Linked DNA regions of Homo sapiens. The protein of the gene in region 2 interacts with the protein of the main gene of each other region in a biochemical or structural test. Each region holds a gene or a part of one and is shown on either strand. Other genes may lie near its edges.

Region 1 (11,460 bases), on a different chromosome or scaffold from region 2:
CCACAAACCTGATGAAATTCTATCACTCACTTCCAATTGGCACAACTCATCATATCTGGACACTCACAATGAAGTTAGTATTTTAATAGAACATAGTTGAATGACCCTGTTGAAATGGCCCTGCAGGCTGGGGGCGGTGGCTCACGCCTGTAATCCCAGGACTTTTGGAGGCTGAGGCGGGCGGATCACCTGAGGTCAGGAGTTCATGACCAGCCTGGCCAACATGGTGAAATCACATCTCTACTAAAAATACAAAAATCAGCCGCGCGTGCTGGTACACACCTGTAGTCCCAGCTACTCGGGAGGCTGAGGCAGGAGGATTCCCTGAACCCAGGAGGTAGAGGTTGCAGTGAACCGAGATTACACCACTGCACTCCAGCCTGGGCAGCAGAGTGAGACTCAGTCTCAAAAAAAGAAAGAAGGCAGAAAGGAAGGAAGGAAGGGAGGGAGGGAGGGAGGGGAGAAAAGAATTATTTGCAGTTATACAAATAAAACAAAGCAGTAATAATAAAGGAAACACAGAAATGTGATCCATCTCGATCTTTTCAAATTTCATGTTCAAAATAAGAATCAATAAATCCTATGTTGAAACTGGATCAAAAACTCATATTAATATTGATTTAGAGTAGATTCTTTCCTAATGTGTTAAGCCAAAAATAGAAATGATCACATAACCATTGTTTAAAAGCTGTAACATTCCCCAGACAGGTTTACTTACACTTCTTGGGTTACGTTTCCCAATGACCTTGTCCCACTTCTGCACACGCAAGATGGGTAAATATTAGATCTAGTACAATCTCCGAGTGTGTGGTGCTATTTATATTCATGCAGAGCCTTGGCTAGCCATGCACAACCTAGGAAAATGTCTAAAAATTGCTTTATGTGTACCTAATTTGGAAGAAATCCGTTAGAAATACAACGTTAACAATTGCACAAAATACCGAGGAATATGAAAAGTCAGTAACTCTTATGTACCAAACTACAACACAGAAGTTTTTATAAACCTTAAAAAGATGTATTCACTCCTATGTTTCCTCTCTTTGATCTCCGTAACACAATAGAATAAAGATATAAAGAAAAGATAAACCTATATTCTTTTAGAGAAAATAGGTTCACTTTACTTCCCAACAGTTGTATCCACCCTCTCATCAGCCCTGCCCCCCATAACACCTATCCCAACAGCACAGGCCACTAAAAATAATAAGGGGCTACCTCGCGTAACAGTGTAGTATGGCAGCAGAACATCCTTTCTCAATACTTTCTCCTCATCCCTCCCCCAACTGTTCTACAGGTGTGACATTGAGAGCATGGGCTATGGGTTCATGGCATTCCAAAGAATCAGCTGTCCATAATCCCTTGCCCCACTCTCCTCCAATTTAAGAAAATATATCATGAAGCAAAAGCACAAGTGACAGCACCAAGATAACACTGCATCTGTGCACCCTGGTTTATACACCAAGATAACACTGCATCCGTGCACTCTGGTTTATACAAACAAGCACATGATTCTAAATTTCAGTGCTGCAACTCTTAGTAGTAGAGCAAATGTATTTATATTCATGTAGAGCCGCGTGGCTGAGAAGTAGGGCCTTGGAGGGAACTGGGTGGAGGAGAAGTGGGAATGGAGGAAGGGGTGGCATATCCATCCAAGAAACTGAGTGTCAACCCTTTGCACATAAGAAATTTGGTCACGGCCACCTACTCATTAGCTCCAAGGTTCCAAATAGTCCTGCACTCCCTGTAACACAGAGAGGGAGTTCAGCATCCTCCCTTAGATCTGGAGTTGGGTTCAGCTCCCTTAGACAGAACCATGAGGACTTCAAAATCTACTGCCAAGAAACTGATGAGCAGGAGCCCTCGACAACGCTGCATATAAGAAGGAAAGGGCTGGGTTAGTTAGCATTATATTTATAAAACTATGAACTTCCTATACAAGAGCATTTCAATCTCCTTACCTCTACCCTGTAATGGACCTGCTTCCAATTTCTCTTCACACAGAACAGTTCAAATTGTTTTAGATCATTAGAACTTAGGTTAGTGAAATTCTAAATATCTAAATACCCCTGAAAGAATTACCTTGATAGATGCAATCTCTGATTATTGTGGATAAGAAACCACAATCAAATGTCCCTTATCCCTTTTGTATTTCTTTCTTCCATATAGAAAAAGTTTCCATGATTTTTCCTTTAAAAGGAAATTAAGTTATGGTAAATGGTGAAAACCCTAAACAGCACAAAAACCATCTCTAGGAAAAAGAAATAAATTCCTAGTTAAGAATACAAATTCTGGCCAGGTACAGTGGCTCACGCCTGTAATCATGCCACTCCAAAGAGTTAGATGTCCATAATCCCTTGCCCCACTGTCCTCCATTTTAAGAAAACACATCATGAGGCAAAAGCACAAGTGACAGTACCAAGATAACACTGCACTTTGGGAGGCTGAGGTGGGAGGATCACTTGAGCCTAGGAGTTCAAGACCAGCCTGGGCAATATAGGGAGACTCCATCTCTACAAAAAAGTACAAAAATTAGCCAGACATGGTGACACACACCTGTAGTCCCAGCTACTAGGGAGGCTGAGGTGGGAGGAGCGATTGAGCCCAGGAGGTCAAGGCTGCAGTGAGCCAGTATCGCACCACTGCACTCCAGCCTAGGTGACAGAGTGAAACCCTGTCTCAAAATAATAACAATAATGATAATAAATCACATTCTTAATCATCTTATCAAAACTAGTCATTTTTTCATCTAGCATGTATGAAGTAGGATCTTCCTATAATACTAAATCACAGCTCAGTGATCTTTTAAGGAGGTAGTGATCATAAAGTTAAGATCTTAGACTTTGGCATGAAATAGACCAATGCCTTAAGACCTAGCTATGCTGCTTACCAACTGTGTGAACTTGGATAAGTTGCTTATTCTCTCTACATTTATGCTTCATCTGTAAAATAAGAAAAGTTCTAGCACCTACCTCAGATGACTGATGAAATCACTAAATAAGATAATGTACACAAAGCACTAAGCACAATGCCTAGCACACAGTTGGCCCTCAACAAATGTCTACTGGTAGCACTAGCAGTATAATAGAAACAACAGCAATAGCAGAAGATTGCTCCCCAAACTTTATTTCACCTAGCTCCATTTTTGGAAAAACATAAAAACCCCACTGGTAGTAATCCACCATATATGTGTCTCTCCTCCCTTTCCTGGACAGAAGAGAGGACTCCACCTCACACTCCCTTCAATTATGTCACTTTCAGTTCAAGGAATTAAAGAACCAATGTGCCATCTCCAGTCACTCTCCTCCCCTGCTGTGGCAACGTTTGAAGCCATGCATCAGGATGCAGAAATCCTGGATCCTGAGTCACTGCATGGAAAAGACCCGTCCCACAGAGTCACCTGACCTGCTTCTTACTTTAAGCAAATTAGAAATAAATCTCAAATATGTTAATCCACTGAGATTTGAAGTTTGTTAGTTACTGCAGCAAAACTTACCCTATCCTGACCAACAGGTACTCCTATACTTCTAAAAGGGATCCTAATATACTTCCAAAAAGAGAAGACAGTTTTTTTAATAGCTTGTTTTTTGTCAATCTTTATATTTTTTACTTTGTAAGACATCATATTGCAAGTAAATTGACTTTTCAAAATCTCTGCGCTTCTTCCTCATTTTACACTTTTTAATCTAAAAGAGAAAATTGCATTTTACTTGTATTAAATATACAGATTAATACTAGAGCTTTCACTGAGTCATATGTCACACAGTCACATTTCACCTATGATACCAAGGTATCCTGTGATCACAGTAAGACCAGAACAAGGAAGGGATAATGGAAGTGCCCTCAAGCATTCACACACTCCTGGCTTATGGCAACCTGAGACGGTTAAGTGGAATTATGGATATCACCTATTCTAAACTGAACTAACCCTCATGAAATGGACAAATGGTTCGAAATGTTTTTAATAAAAGTGGAAAAGGTTTTATATGTCACTAAAATGTATCTCAATGTATTATTTTGCTCTATCTCATCCACATTTAATTCTTCGTGGATGTCATAAAAGACACATAATACACTGGCAGTGTAATGCATCCTGTAATTTATAAATAAATATACATGTATAATTGGGGTCTGTGCTCAAAGATAAACTTAATGAAAGAAGCATGAGATAAGTCACTTTGGAGCTAACAGTTTAAAGAAGAGCTTTCAAACTTTTTGTCCCTGCTTGCACCATTCCTAAACTGCTTTAACCATTTTCCAAAAAATTAAAATGAAGAGAAAACCAGTATAAAACTGGGGGGAAATGTGCATTGTACAAACAGGTTCATAAAGACTTCATGAACCAGCAAAATCAGAAAGAAGCAGAAATGATACCGAAGAGCATCATTTTAGAGTGAAGAACAAACCTTTCGGTTCCAACTACAAAATCACATTTCTACGTCTGAAAACTAGCTTTGGCTCTGTTAGATAATCAAAAGGATAAGGTGATTGTTTTCTACACATAGAATGAAAACAAAAGGCAGATTTTCCTATAGATCACAAATGCTTCTACAGGCGCTTAAACTCCAAAGGAGTGGTAGCCAGGGAAACAGTTAGGAGGGTCAGCAGGTGACTCCAAGAAAGGCAGAGCACTTCGTTAGACCAACATCAAAGCCAGTTATTGGAAAATCACTTGTTCAGTCAACTTAGAGTTATCTCAATTTCCTTCAGAAAGTTAAATAATATCTGGGAATTTTTGAGCCACGTGGTATCACATTCCCTATGCCCCAGCTCTTAGCACTTCTATAAGCACCAATTAGAGATGAAGCTGGGGCCAGGTGTGCAATCCTAGAACTTTGGAATTACTCCTTGAAGCCAGGAGTTCAAGACCGGCCTTGGCAAAATAGCAAGACCTTGTCTCTACAAAAAAAAATAATTTTAATCGGCAGGCTGTGGTGATATGTGCCCGTAGTCCCAGCTACTCAGAAAGCTGAGGTGTGGAGGATCATTTGAGCCGGGAAGTCAAGGCTGCAGTGAGCTATGATCAACGTCACTACACTCCAGCCTGAGCAACAGCAAGACCCTGTCTCTTAAAAAAAAAAAAAAAGAGAGAGAGAGAGAGAGAGAGCAAGAGATGAAGCTGGAATTTAAACCCAGGTATGTCTGATTCCAAAGCGCTTATAAAAATAGCAGCATTTTAGGAAATAAAGTAGGCATTAAAAAAGAAAAGAAAAGAAAATAGCAGCATATAAAACAGGCCTCACAGAATAGGTGGGATTTGGAAATGAAGACTGGCTGAGATTTAAAGGGAGGTGGCAGGAAAAGCAGGTGCTGAGAAGGCCACCAGTGGAAGGGAGCAGCAAGAGCAAGGGCATGGCAGTGCAAAACCTTGGGTGTGTGCAGGAATTACCAGGCAGTGGTACAGAAAGCACAGATGTGGAGGGAGGCAGCACAAGATAAGGCTGGAAATGTTGGCCCAGGCCTTCTAGTAGAAGTGCTATGGGCTCAGTCAAGAAGGTAGACTTTATTCTGGAGGCAATGAGTAATCACTGAGGGCTTTAAAGCAGGAAAATAGCATAACTGCAGGTAGACACCAGGAACCTGTTTTTCCTGTGGCATGAAGGATGGATCAAAGAAGAGTATGAAGGTGACTTACATATAGTAGATAGTTAATTAATGCTGAATGGATGAAGGCAAAAACACCAAGTTAAAAATTTATTGTGTATCTCTAACATAACAAACCCATTTGATCCAATTCCATTTCATATTGTTCAATCTGCTACTTAGAGAACAACTTCACTCATTCTAGTGGGAAATAATGGTGCTGGTGCTTCAAAATAAAAATCAATTCACCAGTCAAATGTGGCCCACTAAATGTTGCTCTTAAAGTCTTTATTCTTACAGAAATTAACATTTTCTTCTTCTATTCAGAAGGAGGTACATCTGAACAGCTGTTGCAACTGCTGAAAAAGAAAACAAAATTAACCAAGTACAAAAGTTAGGCAATGACAAGTGATCCTCCCCACCCCACCCCTCTCCCCATCTGCAACCATGTGAAAAGGTTATCGGAAAATAAGGAAATTACAAGCTGTAATGGTATATTTCCTATGCTCTCTCATAGTGTCTAAGTCAAACACATACTAAGCCATAACCTTCTTGATGATGCCAAACTTTCTTCTGCACAGGTCGTGGTACCATCTGCAAAGCATCAACTACTCAGTGAGAAGCCAAGGCTGAAAAATACTGAGATGAGTCATGACCTACCTGATTTTCTTCATGGGAAACCCTCATCTGCTCCTTGAGGACAGACATCCGCGCTGCCTCTTCTTTCCTCAAGACTCTCTCCTTCTTAAGCTCAGGACTCCAGAAAGTCTTAATACTGTTCATGGAAGATCCCAATTTGCTGTCCTTGATGTCTAGCTCTTTCCGGAGGAGGTCATTCTCTCTCTGCAGTTCTTTCAGCTGGGCCTGAAGATCTAACATTGTGCTGTCTCTTACCTGCCTCAACATGGAGGGGACCTGGTGGTGGTGATGATGGGATGAGCCAGTCAGCCCACCATGTTGATCTGTGTATGAAAGGACATCTGTGTGGGAAAGTCCAGCAGAAGCAATATTGGGACTACTCCCCATGGCTGTGACACGGCCTCCATATACAGCTCGATTTGTAGCCCTTCCCAGAGTCATAGTGCCCTTTGGGTAGGTTGTTGAAGCCACCCCTTCATGATCACTCAGATACATGGGTCCAGACGTAGCATAGGCTGCATTGAGGGACTGGATATTCTCCATAGACAGAGTCTTGCCTGTTCCTCCACCTCCCCCACTACTTGTTCTTCGGTGGCCCAAACGAGGAGACCTTGGCAAACGAGGGGATCTGGAAGGGCTACCTTCCAGATTGGTGATTGTTCTTGCACTTCCATACATTTTTCTTGTATTATGAGGTGTTACTGAAGAGAAGAAATGCTATATTAAGTTGGGGTTTGAGCTAATATTTCCACGATTGTCCAGAATTTTCACCGCATTCTTTTCACAGTCCGTACCAGAAAATAACTCCACTCAGAGATCTACAAAGTGAAAAAAAGAATAATTAAAAACAAATTTCTTTAGAACTCTAACTGCATTGTATTTTTAAATATATAAAGATAATGATAGATGTACCTATGTAGATAGGTGATTAATAATAGACAGATAGAAAGAGCCACACCCATAATGTTGATTTATAAAGAAAAGCAACTCTAGAACTTTACTACTACAGGTGAAAGTTTTACAAATTCCCCCCACCCTGCCCCTAAGCAAGATAAAAATTCTCAAAGTGAAAAATAAGCTCTATTCTTTAAGAAAATGAAGCTCTCTATATTGGTTTGTGCTAAGGTTAGAGTTAGAACCTCTAGAAAATTCCCCATGGAATTGCCCATCATGGAGACCTTAGCTATAAAAAGGCCCCTCCTTTGGGGCATAACCCCTATATGCATGTGACTTGAAAGTGACTCTGAGAAGCTGCTGATTCCTGGGATGTCAAATATTTGGCATTCATGTTGTTACCTTCCCCTCCTGTACTCATTACAGACATCACTAATCCATCACAGTCTTCTTTTCCACTAGGTTCAGAATTCTTCTCAACACAACACTCTAGATGGCTTACCACCAATCAACTGGTATTAACACATGAATTCAAACCTACTGGCTATCCTGGAGATAGAAGAAAAAGAGGTAGCTCAACCAATGGGATGCCTAAACACATAGCCAGATCCTCAATGATATTACCAGAGAAAACAACAGTCCTGTCTCTTTTCCCTTTCACACACATCTTTCAGGCTGGCCTCTTGAGAATTATTTCCCATTTTGGTTGACCTTAATATTCATATTAACCACTTCATGTCTGTACAGAAATGGCAAAGGAGAAGAAGTTCCCATCACGGTTACTGAAGTATACTAGTGAAGATTTTATGTAGCTGGGGCTACAGCATTGTGAGTATCCCTTCAATTTTAGCACCCATATGGCCTTAATGGGGCACATTATGGCCTCCTGTTCTTCCTCTTAGAAAGTCTTTACTGTATTTTCTTTTCCTTCAGCTTTACAACAATAAAAGAACAGATTTGAGAAAGGCAAACAGGTTCAAATGTCCATGCTAATACTAACCAGCTGAGTAACCTTAGACAAATTATTTAACTTGTTATGAGCTTCCACTCTGCAATCAACAAAATGCAGGTAGTACCATCTAACTCATAGTATTGTAAGAAATAGTAAGATGAGGTTTATAAAACACCTAGTTTTGTGCCTAGTACCAAATAGTCAATAAATAGATTTTGAAGGTAAGTGTCTCAATGAGATAAGTACATTAATAGCAGTATACATGGGTATCTTTTATTTTCACCTGCCTATCATTCATCCCTTCCCCCTCTCCCAAATACACACTTTCTGATTATACTGTCACTATTTTCCTTAGAGAAATTGTTCCCAACCCCCTACTCACAGTTCACTGGGTTTAGATAAGGTTGACTCCCTTCACTCCACCATCCTGGATGGTGCAAGGGGTGAGAACATGACCCACGCCTGGCCAACCACCATATTGTATCCTCCAGACATGGTAGCTAGTTTAGTGATGGGCATGTGACCCACATTGGTCCAACAAGACTCCATACTAGGACTCTAGTTGGAACAGCTGGGAAAGATAAGCTCTTCTTCAGCTGGAATTCCTTACTTTCAAGATAGAGCTGTGAGTACTTCAATGTGGAAAGGGCCTCCCTGAGGGTGGAGACAATACAAAGGGAACCACAGCTAAACTTCAAAGAGTGTGAAACCAAACCAGGTGACATCACTTCATACTCCAGATCCAGGAATCATAGAAGTTACCATCATCTATCATCTATACATCTGTTCCCTGGCCATTTTAGTTACATATGCCAGGTGACTGATTGCATTAAAGGTCTCAATCCTTTACTCCTTTTTTTATATATGTCTTGGCAGTGTTTTCCCAATGTGATGCTAGGTTCAGTCATGTGACTTTATTTGTCCAGTAAGGTGATAACAAATGTGAAGTAAGCAGACGCCTTAAGCAACACATGTGTTTACTCTCTTGCTCATTTTCCTCTACCATAGTAATTAGAATATTCCCAATCTAGCCTGATGCAAGATGAGAAATATAAAATAGAACCAAGTTGTCCTAGCCAACAGGCAAGCCGCCCCAAGATGTGTGAGCAAGCCCAGCCAAAGTCAGCAGAACTGCCTAGCCAACCAGCCACTGCCCAGCGGGGCATGAGCGAGCCCAGCTGAGATCAGCTAAACACCACACTTATGCACTTGATAAATGCTTCTTAGTATGTCACTGATGTTTTGTGGTGGACTGTTTTGCCACATTACAGGATCAATGGGTAACTGATGCATTTGTCTATAAATTTCCTTTTTGCTACATTCAATTCTAGATGAGATTTCTGTCACAGATAGTGACACATACAGTATGAAAAAATGTTTTCTATAAAGGTTTCCCCTTTCCCTCAAGAGGTCTTAAAAAATTATACACCTGTTTCTAACTAAAGAACTTCATTTCAAATGTTTATGTTGCTCAGGGCTTAATTTTGTTTTTCTTGGAAATACACAAAAACCATTTTGTATCTAAGATTTTTACATGAATAATCTGTAGTGTAAAAAAGAGGGGATCAATAGTTCTAACATAAGAATTCGGTGACATAAATGATAAGAGAGACAGATAATGGAATAGTGGAACAGGCAGTTACATGAATATTTAATAAGACAGAAAGATGTTCATGACATACTGGTGGCAGGGGGAGCAGACGACAAAACAATTTTGTGATTTACTCACACTGTTGTAAAACACACAAATACACATACACCCTTTCACCAGCAAAGAAGGCTGGAATGACACACATCAAAGTGTTACCAGTGGTGGAATTCCAAGAGGTTTTCATTTTCTTCTTTTTATTTGCATACTCTAAATTTTCTACAATTGAAACTGACTCAATTGTCCCATAGAGCTGATGTCAGTGGTTTCTTTGAAAAAACATAGAAATTGACCTCCCAGTTTTAAAACTTGAGAAAGTTGCATTTGTCTTATCTGAGTTCCTTTCTAAGGAAACCAACCATCAGGCCTCCCAGATAGTGTCAAGGAGCTCAAACTCGCCAGATTACTGCATTTGGGCAATGAGATGTCAGACCCTTCATCTGTCATAATTGCCTTGCCCTATCTGCTTCCTTTTAACCAACTCCTCTTCCTTATCCCTCCCTAATTCCTGTTTTTCCACTCATGATTACATTTCTTCCCTGCTATATAAACCCTTACGTTAGTTGGTCAAGGAGATGGATTTGAAACTGATCTCCCATCTCCTCAGCTGCAGCACCTGATTAAAACCTTCTTCTCTGGCAATACTTGTCTCAGTGATTGGCCTTCTGTGCAGCAAGCAGCAGGACCTGGACTGAACCTCTGGTGTTTTGGTAACATAATAATGATATATACTTTTTTCATTAAAAAAATGATTTTCTTTCTATGGTTCCAACAGTTAAATGAATGTATCTTTTCTGTGCTTACAATCTAGATGTCTGGGTTCTAACTGGGCCACCACTTATAGAGATGTCTTCCTAGAAAAAGTGATGAAATCTAACTTGTCTTCCTCTGTCTGCTCCCTTTGTATCTAGAGATACACATTTCTGAGGTCTGTGGCTAGGCTTGAGGTCCCGGAATGTCATAAAATTTACACGCACACAGATTTAATCCTCAGTGAATTTACCTGCCTACCTGGCCAAGGCTTTGGAGAATCCCAATAACCAACAAACAAAGTTAGTTTGTTCCCTTTGGAAACACACACACATATAACATACAACATGAAAAGATGTATTATCATGTTTGAAATATTGTTTCCTTATTTAAAAAGTAATATATGTTGCCACTGGCCCATAGATTTCTTGGGTTCTCCTTTTCTAGGTTTAATAACAGATGTATGCTAGTATCATAGATAGATTGAGAAGCTTTCCATTTTTCATATGTTCTGGAACAGTTAGCATAATACCAGTCTTCCCTATTCCTGAAATATTTTGTAGAACACACACATAAAACTGAATGGGCTTGGCAGGGAATGTTGACTCCTGCTGTAATGCTAGCTACTGAGGAGGCTGAGGCAGGAGGATTGCTTGAGGACAGAAGTTCAAGACCAGTCTGGGCAATATAGCAAGACTCTGTCTCTAAAAAAAATTTTTAAATTAGCCCAGTGTGGTGTCATGTGCCTGCAGTCCCAGCTACTTGGGGAGAGTGAAGCAGGAGGATCACTTGAGCCCAGGAGTTCGAGGCTACAGTGAGCTATAACTGCACCACTGCACTCCAGCCTGGGTGACAGAGGGAGAGACCCAGTCTCTTTAAAAAAGCAAAAAACACAGAATGGGCCTAGTTGTTTATTATCTTTTCACTTTTTCACTATGTTTACTTGTCTATTTGGGTTTGCTACCTATTTTGTGTCAATTATCATTAAAACGTCCCTTCA
Region 2 (11,460 bases):
CCCTTCTAGCCCCTTTTGCCCTATCTGGAGTGATGAGAGGGGATTGGGAGTTCTTCCTTTGGTCATGAATCCTTGGTGTGTGAGGGAGGCTGCAGGTTAGGACAGGGATGAGGCCTGTTGCATCGCTCTTAGACCTTGGACATCCACAGAGTTGGGGCCACTCATTTGAAAACCTCCCTGGAAGGAGGTGATGTTTAGCTAAACAGGATATGATGAGCCTGGAATGTGGGAGCAGTCTCTCACCCCTGTATGCTTGTCCTGATGGGGGAGGGTGGGCTGGCAAGGTCTCTGAAGTTATCTGGGCCTGACAGTGTGGAAATGGGCCCCTCTAGAAGTGATACTTGGTACATGGATATTTGGTAAAGCCAGGGCAACTGCCTTGGCATCAGGAGCTGGGATGTAGCCCTTGCTTGGTTGAGCAGGGCTCCTAGAAAGCCTGACTGGGCAGGTCTGCATACTCTCTTGCTCCTATGTAGGTAGGTCCTTTGATCTGCTTATTTCACCCGCTACTTGCAGTTTGCAAAGCCTTGGGATGGGGCTGGAAGAGCTCCCTGGGGCACTCATGCAGGCATTATCTTCAAAAGCTCTTTCTCTTCCCTGTTTCTTTTATTTATTTATTTTTATTTTTCGAGACGGAGGCTCACCCTGTCGCCCAGGCTGGAGTGCAGTGGTGCCACCTCAGCTCACTGCAACCTCCGCCTCCCGGGTTCAAGTGATTCTCCTGCCTCAGCCTCTGGAGTAGCTGGAATTACCCAGGTGTGCGCCACCACGTCTGACTAATTTTTGTATTTTTAGTCGAGACAGGGTTTCACCATGTTGGCCAGACTGGTCTCAAACTCCTGACCTCAGGTGATCTGCCCGGCTCAGCCTCCCAAAGTGTTGGGATTACAGGCGTGAGTCACTGTGCTGGGCCTTCTCTTCCCTCTTTCATATCCATCAGTTTCTGTTTGGACCTTAATCCACCAAACCAGAAGCAGAATTCCCCTCCATCAGTTTCTAAAGGAAAATGTCATTGAATTCCTGGAGAAATGGAAATGCCAGGTGGGAGGGAGGATGTAATCTGGTCATATTGGTGGCTGGATGGGGAAGGGTCTGCAGAGCAGACTCAGTGACTTTCTCACTCTTGTGTACAACTCTGTTCCCTTGGATTCTAACACATGGAATGCATGGAGGACCCAGAGATGTGGACCCCTCTGGAGAAGCACATGCTAGCTACAGGTTTACTGACCTGCAGTGTGGATGGATTGGGATTTTGTGGGGGAGGTGGTGGAAGTAAGGGATGGGTGAGAGGATCCCACCACTGACTTGCATGTGCAGGACACTGCTTTGGGGGTGAATCCTGAAGCACTGAGGGGCCTTGGGGGTTTTCAGGAATTTGCCACCTTAACCCGGGAGCTGAGCATGTGTCGGGAGCAGCTTCTAGAGCGGGAGGAAGAGATATCAGAACTGAAAGCAGAACGGAATAACACACGGGTAAGTGGGGATGACCTTGTGTCGCGCGCGCGCACGTGTGTGTGTGTGTGTATGGGGGTGTGTTGTGAACACCTTGACCAAGAGAGCAGGCAAGAGTGGGGCCAGGCACAGTCCTAGCTCAAGCCCCATCCTTCCCTCTTCCTGTCTCCCATCCTGGGGTGAGAGTTACATCGTTTAACCACCAGTGCTGGGCTCTCCACCTGTAGTTGCTGGTTCACAGAAAGCTCAGGGTCCTGGGGAGAGGCCGGGGCAGTCACCTTGAGTAGTATCAGTTGGGGCGGGAGCTCTGTGCCCATTTGGAAGTATTTCAGTGTTTTCACAGTGGGGTGGCTGTAACTCATGTCTGCTCGGGGATCACATGGACCCTGCTTGTAGCCCCTGGGGCACATGCTTACAGCCCTCCCTCTCACCCTCCCCTGCTCTCCCTGCCAGCTGCTTCTGGAACATCTGGAGTGCCTGGTGTCCCGCCATGAACGGTCACTGCGGATGACTGTGGTGAAGCGCCAGGCCCAGTCACCTTCGGGGGTCTCCAGTGAGGTGGAGGTGCTGAAGGCCCTCAAGTCACTGTTTGAGCACCACAAGGCCCTGGATGAGAAGGTGCCCACCTGCCCGCCAGCCCCCACATCCAGCCAGGCTGCCCTGGAGCCTCCCATGTATCCCTTCTCTGAGATTTCCACATCCGGTATTTAGGGAGCACTGGCTCCCTCCAAACATTGTCTTAACTTCAAGGTCCTCCTGTTAGGCTCCCTCCTGCAAATGTGCTGCTTAGTAGGCCCTTCACTGTCCTCATGCTCAGTGGTGGTAGACCAAGCCCAGTCTCTTCCAGCCTGACTCAAGTGGGGTCCCCCTTTCTTCCTCCATCTCCCCTTACCTCGAGCAGGTGCGAGAGCGGCTCCGGGCAGCGCTGGAGCGAGTCACCACCTTGGAGGAGCAGCTGGCAGGTGCCCACCAGCAGGTAATCTGCCTGCTCACCCTCAGTCTGCAGCTCCTGGAAGTCCAGGCTGGTTCACCCCTGTGCCCTACTCTGTTTCTTGTCAGATTTCTCCCTGCCATGGCTGGAAGCTGCTAGGCAAGGCTAGGCTGAGCACCTCTTTCTAGGAGACATTTTTTAACTAAGACAGGGGCTTTGGAAGGGTCTGGAATGTATGGGAGGTTCTCTTCTCTTTGACTCATTGCCCTGGGGCTTGTGCCCTACAGGTGTCTGCCCTGCAGCAGGGGGCAGGGGTGCGGGATGGAGCGGCAGAAGAGGAGGGGACTGTGGAGCTGGGGCCGAAACGCCTGTGGAAGGTAGGTCATGGAGAGCTGTGTAGCAGGGGTCATGTGTTCCCCAAGGTGGGAGGTTGGAGGCCCGGCTCTGCCTTAGTTCAGTAGACTAACTGCTTGAATTAAATTTGAGGCTTTCTCTGATATTCCCCCTTCTCTTTTCTTCTTCTCCCTACCCCATCTGCAATGAAATCTGTAGATTTTTATTTTAGTGCCCAACACATGCTGGGCACATCATACGCTTGTCTGCTTGAATTGTTAGGCACCATCTGCCTCATGTGGCAGCATCAGGCAAGATTCCTTCTCTGTCTGAACCTTTGTTCCCCCAGTCACGCCCCTTTCTGGGTTACAAGAGGCTGGCATAGCAGATAAAACTAGAAACTTGTTTTCAAGAGAGACAAAGGATAGCAAGGTGTTTGGTCATTGTCAGGAGTGACCTCCTGGGGCCCAGAGGGAGGCAGTTGTAGCCAGAGGAGTGCTGTGATGTTGGGGGCAGAGCCTTGACCTGCTCTGGGTGTGCTGTTCCTCCTTCCACCCCTGGGATAGGGGAGTGGGGTGGGTGGGATGCTGCTGTGACTCACAGAGCTACTGTCCCTATCCCTGGAGGAGGATACGGGCCGGGTAGAGGAGCTGCAGGAGCTCCTGGAGAAGCAGAACTTTGAGTTGAGCCAGGCCCGGGAGCGACTGGTCACCCTAACAACAACCGTGACTGAACTCGAGGAGGACCTGGGCACGGCCCGCCGGGACCTCATCAAGTCGGAGGAGCTGAGCAGCAAGCATCAGCGGGACCTCCGGGAGGTGCGTGAGGGCGCAGGCCTGCTCTGTGACCTCATTGTGGAGCGTGTGGAGGGAGAGCCAGGCAAAGGCTCTGGGGCGTGAGACTGAACACCTGCCTCCTTGCCTGGCTCCATTGTTGGGGGGCGGTCATGGAAGGGGTGGGCCAAAGCCAGAAACTGACAGGAGAGTGTAGCTCATGCCCCTTAATGGGTTCCAATCAGCCAGGTGTGGGTGGGGAGGTGTAGACAGGATGGGGGCAAGGAAAGGCTGGTTACCGTCCTTCTTGTCCCCTCTTCTCCCAGGCTCTGGCCCAGAAGGAGGACATGGAAGAGCGGATTACTACACTGGAGAAGCGCTACCTGGCTGCTCAGCGTGAGGCAACATCCATCCATGACCTCAATGACAAGCTGGAGAATGAGCTGGCCAACAAGGAGTCCCTGCACCGCCAGGTACCTCCTCAGGGTGGGGTGGGGATGGGCATTGTACTTAGCCCTGGAGGTGTCCTCGTGAACCTACTGGTGATGGCTGAGGAGCCCCTGGGGTCCTGCAGGTCACCCTTTGAAAGGGGAAGTCAGGCGTCTCGGGCAGCCAACAACCAAGATTGTCCCTTGCTGCTTCTGACCTGTCATCTGCTCTCTGCTGAGGCTGGGGTGGGGGTGGGGGCTTCAGTGCTCCCTTTTGAATCACTTCACCACCCCCACATTGCTAGTGTGAGGAGAAGGCCCGACACCTGCAGGAGCTGCTGGAGGTGGCAGAGCAGAAGCTGCAGCAGACGATGCGCAAGGCAGAGACGCTGCCAGAGGTGGAGGCTGAGCTGGCCCAGAGAATTGCAGCCCTCACCAAGGCAAGTGGGCCAGGGGCCTGGGATCTGCCTCTGTCCCCCATGTTCTGAGCTCTCAGGGAGCCAGGCAGGGAAGGGAGCGCGTGGGAGGCGCACTGGGCCAGGAGCCAGAAAACTGCTTCCCGCCGTGTGATTCCAGGGAGCACACTGCCTTGTGCCTGTCAGTTGGAAGAGTAATCCCTGTCCTCATCACCCTGCAGGGATGTGACAGTCTCATAAGAAGGGGTGTAAAAGTACTTGAAGGAGAAGAAGCTATGTTGATGCAAAGTGTTTTTCTTTTTCTTTTTTTTTTTTTTTAATCCTCTACACCGTCGTGGTGAACACTTTCTTTCACTTGGGGCTGGAGCAGAAAGATTAGGACTTTCATCTCTGGAAAGGTGAAACCTTAGAAGAGAAATGGTATATATATCCCTGAAGGGCAAAGGGGTGAGAGTTAGGTTGAGTACATCTTTGATTGCCAAATTGAAGCTTCTAGATCTAGGGACTGCTCCTGGTTGTTTGAAGGCTGCAGTTTTAGGATGAAGAAAAAAGAATACAATTTTATTTAATGGATACTTTATGAAGTAGTAATTCCTGAGAGGTGTGCTGGCTGAAAACATAATAGGTTCTGGAAGAGCCAGGTAAATGCCTGGATTTAGACATGCAGGGGTTAATCAAAATAATTTAGGAGCGTTTTCAGCTGGTCAGCCTCATATGGGATCTTCGAACCCGTGGCGAGAAGAAAACCGGTGTTTAGGAAGCACCAGGCACAGTGCTCGGAAGGGAGAGGCTGGCCGGCCAGTGTGCAGCTCAGCTGCTTCGAGGACGGAACCTGCAGCCTGGCTGTGTCCCAGCAGACCCAGGACCAAGACTGCTTCTGCCACTGACTGTCTCTGCGACCTGGGAAAAGTCATCCCCTCCCTTAACTGGGCCTCAGTGTCCTTATCACTATGTTGGAGTTAGACGGGATGGTCTCGGAGGTCTTTCCAGCCTCGAGGAATGAAGGATTGGGTTGAAATCACAGCAGAGGATGTTATGTGTGGGCTGCTGAGCAGTCAGCCTTAGTGTCTCCCAAAGCTGACATGAAGGCACGGGCTGAAATGATTAATACAGTCAAGTGAGTCATCGCAGGAGGAGTTTAAGGAAGGATTTCCTGACTATAAGAGATGTGGCTTTCTAGAATATCTTGCCAGCAGAGACAGTAGGGTCTCCATCTCTGGACATCCATGACTGGAAAGGGAGACTACCCCACCTGGGCTGGTTTAACAGCAGAGCCGTAACCATGCGGGGCTAACATTTGTTGAGTGCTTACTATGTTCTCAGTGTTCGCCTTGGATTATTTCATTTAGTCTTTGTGATGGTCCAGTGGGCCTGGGTGCTATTATTACCCACATTTTACAGTTGTGGAAACGAAGGCACATAGAGGTTTGGTAACTTGTCTAAGGTCACACAGGTGGTAAGAGGGAGCCAGGATTTGAACCCAGGCGGTGTGGCATGAGCCCATGCTCTTCAGTGTGGTTCTATCCATCTGGAGGCGTAGAGGTTTATGGTAGCTCATGCTTTCAAGTGGAGCTTTTTCTGGAAGCATGGGGATTATTTACAGTCTCTTGAACTGCTAGCTTCAGGATGTTTTAAGGCTAGGCCTGAGCGAGGAGGAGGCAGGGGAGACCTGGCAGGTATTGAAGTACCTGGGAAGAAAGGCAATGGGGATGGTGGTCCTGCTCCAAGATGATAAGTGGAGGCTGAGCGTCACTGGTACTGGGGGCCATGATCCCCAGGGCCACCCTGGCACCAGGGTGCAGGGGATGCGGGGCCTGAGCAGGAAGAACAGAGATCTGCGGGCTGCACCGACCCATCCCTGCCCCTAGGCTGAAGAACGGCATGGCAACATTGAGGAGCACCTGCGGCAGCTGGAGGGACAGCTGGAGGAGAAGAACCAGGAGCTGGCACGGGTGAGGGCACCAGGCCGGGCCCTCAGGCCCCCTCCTTCCCGCAGGACAGGCTCCCAGGGCGGTCTGTGGAAGGGGCACGGAGGAAGGGCCTGGCCAGGGACACAGCCACAGAGAGTGGGAGGAGGCTGGCAGGTGAAGGGGGAGGTGGTCAGGAGACTGGAGAGAGTGGCTCCCAGAGGATGAGAAGAGGACAGGGGAGGGAGTCAAACCCCAGCAGGAGAGGGTGGTCCTCCCTGGGAGGGCGGCCTGGTGCGAGGCAGACGGCTGTGCAGGTGCGCCAGCGGGAAAAGATGAATGAGGACCACAACAAGCGGCTGTCGGACACAGTGGACCGGCTGCTCAGCGAGTCCAACGAGCGTCTGCAGCTCCACCTGAAGGAGCGCATGGCTGCCCTGGAGGAGAAGGTGCCCAGAGGGGCGGGGTTGGGATGCGAGAGGTTAGTGCTGGGTGTGGGGCGGGGGGAGGCGGGACTGTGATGGGCGCAGGCGGGGTCTCAATGGGGTGGGTGGCCAGCCTGGAGAGGTGGGGCTGAGACTGCACACCCAGAGGCTCAGGTCTGGAATGGGAGAGGAAGGCAGGGGCCTGGCTCACAGCTGCTCTCCCCCAGAACACGTTGATCCAGGAGTTGGAGAGCTCCCAGCGGCAGATTGAGGAGCAGCACCACCACAAGGTACCCGGCTGCGGCCAGCCCCGCCCAGCCTGGGAGGGCCGGGTTGCAGGGAGGAAAGGACACCCTGCTTTTAACGCTGCTGCTCTGATACCTGGCAGTGTTAGTGCATATGTTAGTGCACTACATACATTATTCCGTGATTTCTCACTAGAGCCCATCATGGTAGGTGCATTACTGCCCACAGGGAAAGAAGAAACTGAGGCCAGAAGCATAGGGCAGAGGTGGACAGCAGAGAGGCAGGGCCCAGTGAGGGGCTCCACCCCAGGATTTGGAGGGAGCTTCAAACCCTGGTGCAGCCAGAGCCTGGTGATTCTGGGAGGATTTGCCTCCGTCCTGGCCTCGGCAATGTCTGTGAGGTCTGAGGGGGTGCTGGGGCCCTCTGCTGCCCAGCCTCATCTGCTGTGCATCTGTGCAGTAGTGAGGGGTCGGCAGGCCTAGGCTAGCAGAGCCCTCCCCAGACAGACCCCCTCCTGGCCCTGCCCCTGCCCATCCTTCCACTCACTCTCTGGTTGGACCTCTTCTCTTTTGGTGTCATCTGTGGGCCTGGCCTGGGGCCCCTGGCTTTGGACTTTGCAGTACATTCTTCAGCTTCTCCCCAACTCTGCTGTCCTCTTTGTCCCTCTCTGACTCCCACCCTCCCTCTCTGCCCCTCCCTGGCCCCCACTCCCGCCCCCACCCCGGGTCTGCTGGCACAGGGCCGCCTGTCTGAAGAGATTGAGAAGCTGCGCCAAGAGGTGGACCAGCTGAAGGGCCGAGGGGGGCCGTTTGTGGATGGCGTCCACTCCAGGTACTGCAGCGCCAGAGGCTGGGCATGCCAGGACGGGGTCCTGATGGACCGTGAGGAAGGAGACTTCCTTCCAACAAAAGACTGCCCAGGACCTCAGGGTCCTCCTCCTGTTCAGGGTGGGACACTGAGGCTCAGATAACTTGGTCAGAGTCACCCAGCTTACTTGGGCAGTTTGGGAGGGAACACCTGTCCTCCGAGGGCTGCTGAGAGGCGAGTCATCAGACAGCCAGTGCTCTGTCCCCGCTGTGGTAGGACATAGGCCATGATTTCTGCTTCCTTGACAGAGGGCACACCCCTGAGAGAGGCCTGCACATCCCTTGCTTAGCCATGTCCTACAGGGCCCACTGGTAGGGAGAGCCATTCACTCCAGTTCTCTTGAGAGTCAAGGACCACCTGAGTTCAGGCAGCGGGCAGAAAGGCAGCAGGAGAGATTGGAATGAAGCATCAGAAACTTCCTTACTGGAAGTTGAGACGCCATGGCAATCCTATGGACTTGGCATCCCTTTTCTTGAAACCATTGTGAGAGATGGAGCTTATCTCCTAATGCTTGAATTAGGCCCATGTTTAGGGAACCTCGGGATTTCCCCCACATTTTGTGGAGCGATGGGTATTGAATTCAGACCTCGAGCCTGTCCTCAGTACCCAGGCCAGAGAGGTGGGGTGAAGACAGGGGAGACTGAAATGGATGGTGCCACTCAAGGTTCATGGCTCTTGGCTGTTTTCTCTCCAAACCAAAGTCTCTTAGATCAGAACCCTTGCCGTTCCCTTTGGTCATGTGCTTGCTGTATCAGGGAAATGGAGATGAACTACCATGAAGAAAGGTTAATGGAAATATCCATATAGATATGTGTGGAGGGGCAGTGGTTGAAATAGGGAAGGGGATGTTGAGCTTGAAGAAGAGAAGCCCACGGGTGTCTGGGGTGGTAGAGACTTAAGTGCCATCTCCACGCTCGCCAGGAATTATTGTATATGGGTATGAAGGGAAGCAGAGGATGGAGACAGGCAACAGTAGTTGGCATTTCTCCTACTTCTCCCATCCTGACCAGAAGAGACAACCCCTCAATTAGTAAAATACGGCCCACAGTACACCAAGCCATTTGCCACTGCTTGGCTTTTTTTTTTTTTCTTAATGGTTGGGAATGCTTGGGTTCGACTATAGAATCATTGGATTCATCGTGGAATTGGGGCTGAGTTGCAGGGAGAAAAGGGGAACATGCAGGAACTTCCCTCTCCCTCCAGTGACCTCGTATGGTCTGTTGTAGGCTCACTGTGTCCCTTCACTCTGGACTCCCTCAAGGGTTCCAAGTAGGAAGGCACAGGGAGGAAGTATCACTAGGGGAGGCTTCCAGATATTCCAGGGGATTGTTGCTTGGGTCCTAAAATCTCAGGGTTGGAATAGACTCTTGGGGCAAAGTATTTTCTCTGGCTTGTGTTTCTGACAGTGTTAGGGCCTCCTAAAGCTTCCTAGGCATAGGGGTATGCCTGGCTTGAATTTTAACCAGGGACTCAGTCCAGATTATGGGGAGACCCGAGGAAAAGTGCTGGGTAGAAGACCAAAAAACAAAGACCCTCAGAGTGAAAAGGGCCTCTAGACATCATCCCTTCCAACATCTCCCAGTGCCTGGAGCCCTCCTGCGCCACGTGTGTCAGATGGCCGGAGAGCCTCTGCTCGAATACCTCTTTGATGGGGAGCTCAACTTTTTAAAAGCCACCAGTTGCATCGTAAGCCAACTCTTGCCATTAGAAGATCCTTCTTATGCCAGACGGAAAACCGCTCTCTGGAACTTTCTCCCCTGGCTCATTCTGACCCCTGGAGCACCAGGGCATACGTCTGCTCTCTTGCTTACACGGCAGCCCTTCAGACATTTGTGACAGCTCTGTGTCCTGCTAAGATGTCTCTTCTCTGAGCTGAAGATCCCTTGACTCTTTGGGCCCACTGGGTGTGAGCTGGGGGTCTCAGTCCTCAGGGCCTGTCTTTTCTCTCCCCCATCACCGCTCAAGGTCGCACATGGGCAGTGCAGCAGACGTGCGGTTCTCCCTGGGCACAACCACACACGCACCCCCAGGCGTGCATCGCCGCTACTCGGCATTGAGGGAAGAGTCTGCCAAGGTGAGGGGGTGGAGGGATCTCCTCAGGGAGTTTGGGGTCAATTCGGCCGCGTGCCTGGCTCCAGTTACGCAGACGGCTGGTGTGTGGGGCAAATCCTTCCCCTTCCCTCCCGTGTCAATGACAGCTGCAGCCCTGGGGTTGAGGCCATCGTCAGCTGCAACAGCTGTGCCCCCCCCCCCGCTTGCCTTGGCCTCCTGGTGGGCAAGAGGTGGGGGCTGGCAGGCAGCCAACAGTCCCTGAGGCCCCACTGAAGTGTGTGTGCGTGTGCCTGGGCGTGCAGGCGTGTGTATCTGGTGGTCGGGCGTGGGGGGTGGGGGAGCTTCACGGGTAAGATGGAATTGGCAGACTTTCTGGAACAAAAGCTGTGGTTCATGGCGGAGACGAGGGAGGGATGACAGGTTAACTGGCCCTTGGGATGGCACCTGGAGTTTTCCGAGAAGCAGCTGTGAGTTCATGCTGTCTGAGTCTGCCTAGGGAGATTAGGGGAGAATGAGGAAAGATATGGGGCAGAAAAATGCCGAGTTTGATCTTTTGGGAAAGTGCAATTATTCGTCATGCTCTGTCCTGAATCCAGGTCCTCTAAATATCATTTAGAGCACTGGGGTATTAGAAGATATAGATGGAGAAAGAGGGAACTCCTAGTCTCAGGGGAAGATTCACTCTGCCCTTAAGAAATCCTCAGTCCGATGGGGGAGTCACAGTCTGAAGGTGCCTCTTTTTCTTTCTCCCCCGACTTCTTTGCTCTTTCTGTTTATAAGAATATAGCAGCTATCCAGGAGCTGAGAGGCTGCAGGAGCCTGAAGGGGAGCTAGGGGGCTTGGGTCATAGAGGATGGGTGTTAGAGTACCTTTCTGTCCCTGGCTCCCTTCCTTCCTTCTCTACTCTTCTGTTCTCCACCCTCCCCTCTTCTGGGCCTTTGTCCGCTGGATAGGTTTGTAGGATGATTTCAGAGAAGCTGCCGCCTCTCAGGGTTGACCAGACTGTCCTGTGATGATCTGAAACTCTGCAGACTGTCTATTCAGGCCTGCTTGGCCTTTCTGTTCTCTGGGTGTAGTCAGCCTTTGAGTTTGTATGGATGGAAACTGATAGCATTTATGTAGTGCTTGCTTTGTGCCAGGCACAGTGCTAAGGGCTTTACATGTATTTTCCTCATTTGATCCTCACAGCTATCTATGAGGTAAGTACTTTACCATCCCTATTTTACAGATGAAGAAACTGAGGCACAGAGAGGTTAAAAAATGTTCCTATGGTTGCACAACTAGTGTTTGGTGGAGATGAGATTCAAACCAAAGCCGTCTCTCTCTGGATTCTCTTCTTAACAGTTAGAGCAGTATTTCTTAGACTGTAATGTGCAAACAAATCACCCAGGGGTCAGCCGGGCACGGTGGCTCACGCTTGTAATCCCAGCACTTTGGGAGGCTGAGGTGGGTGGATTGCTTGAGCTCAGAAGTTCACTACCAGCCTGGGCAACATGGTGAAACCCCGTCTCTACTAAAATACAAAAAATCAGCCGGGCGTGGTGGCGTGCGCTTGTAATCCTAGCTACTCGGGAGTCTGAGGCAGGAGAATTGCTTGAACCTGGGAGGCGGAGGTTGCAGTGAGCCGAGA

The links.
Region 1: the proteins of PPFIA4 (region 2) and ERC2 form a complex in vitro, tested with the Homo sapiens proteins (one study listed by BioGRID).

What each region holds. Positions count from the first base shown.
Region 1 is NC_000003.12:56,428,114-56,439,573, forward strand, and holds part of ERC2 (ERC protein 2), read right to left. Parts: intron 8,180-11,460; exon of another isoform or gene 8,044-8,179; intron 7,939-8,043; exon of another isoform or gene 7,857-7,938; intron 7,035-7,856; 5' UTR 6,895-7,034; coding exon 6,238-6,894; intron 1-6,237. UniProt on the Homo sapiens protein: Thought to be involved in the organization of the cytomatrix at the nerve terminals active zone (CAZ) which regulates neurotransmitter release. Seems to act together with BSN. May recruit liprin-alpha proteins to the CAZ.
Region 2 is NC_000001.11:203,042,026-203,053,485, forward strand, and holds part of PPFIA4 (liprin-alpha-4), read left to right. Parts: intron 1-1,371; coding exon 1,372-1,473; intron 1,474-1,905; coding exon 1,906-2,070; intron 2,071-2,353; coding exon 2,354-2,428; intron 2,429-2,670; coding exon 2,671-2,760; intron 2,761-3,342; coding exon 3,343-3,534; intron 3,535-3,815; coding exon 3,816-3,962; intron 3,963-4,222; coding exon 4,223-4,357; intron 4,358-6,201; coding exon 6,202-6,285; intron 6,286-6,557; coding exon 6,558-6,689; intron 6,690-6,892; coding exon 6,893-6,955; intron 6,956-7,650; coding exon 7,651-7,742; intron 7,743-9,743; coding exon 9,744-9,852; intron 9,853-11,460. UniProt on the Homo sapiens protein: May regulate the disassembly of focal adhesions. May localize receptor-like tyrosine phosphatases type 2A at specific sites on the plasma membrane, possibly regulating their interaction with the extracellular environment and their association with substrates.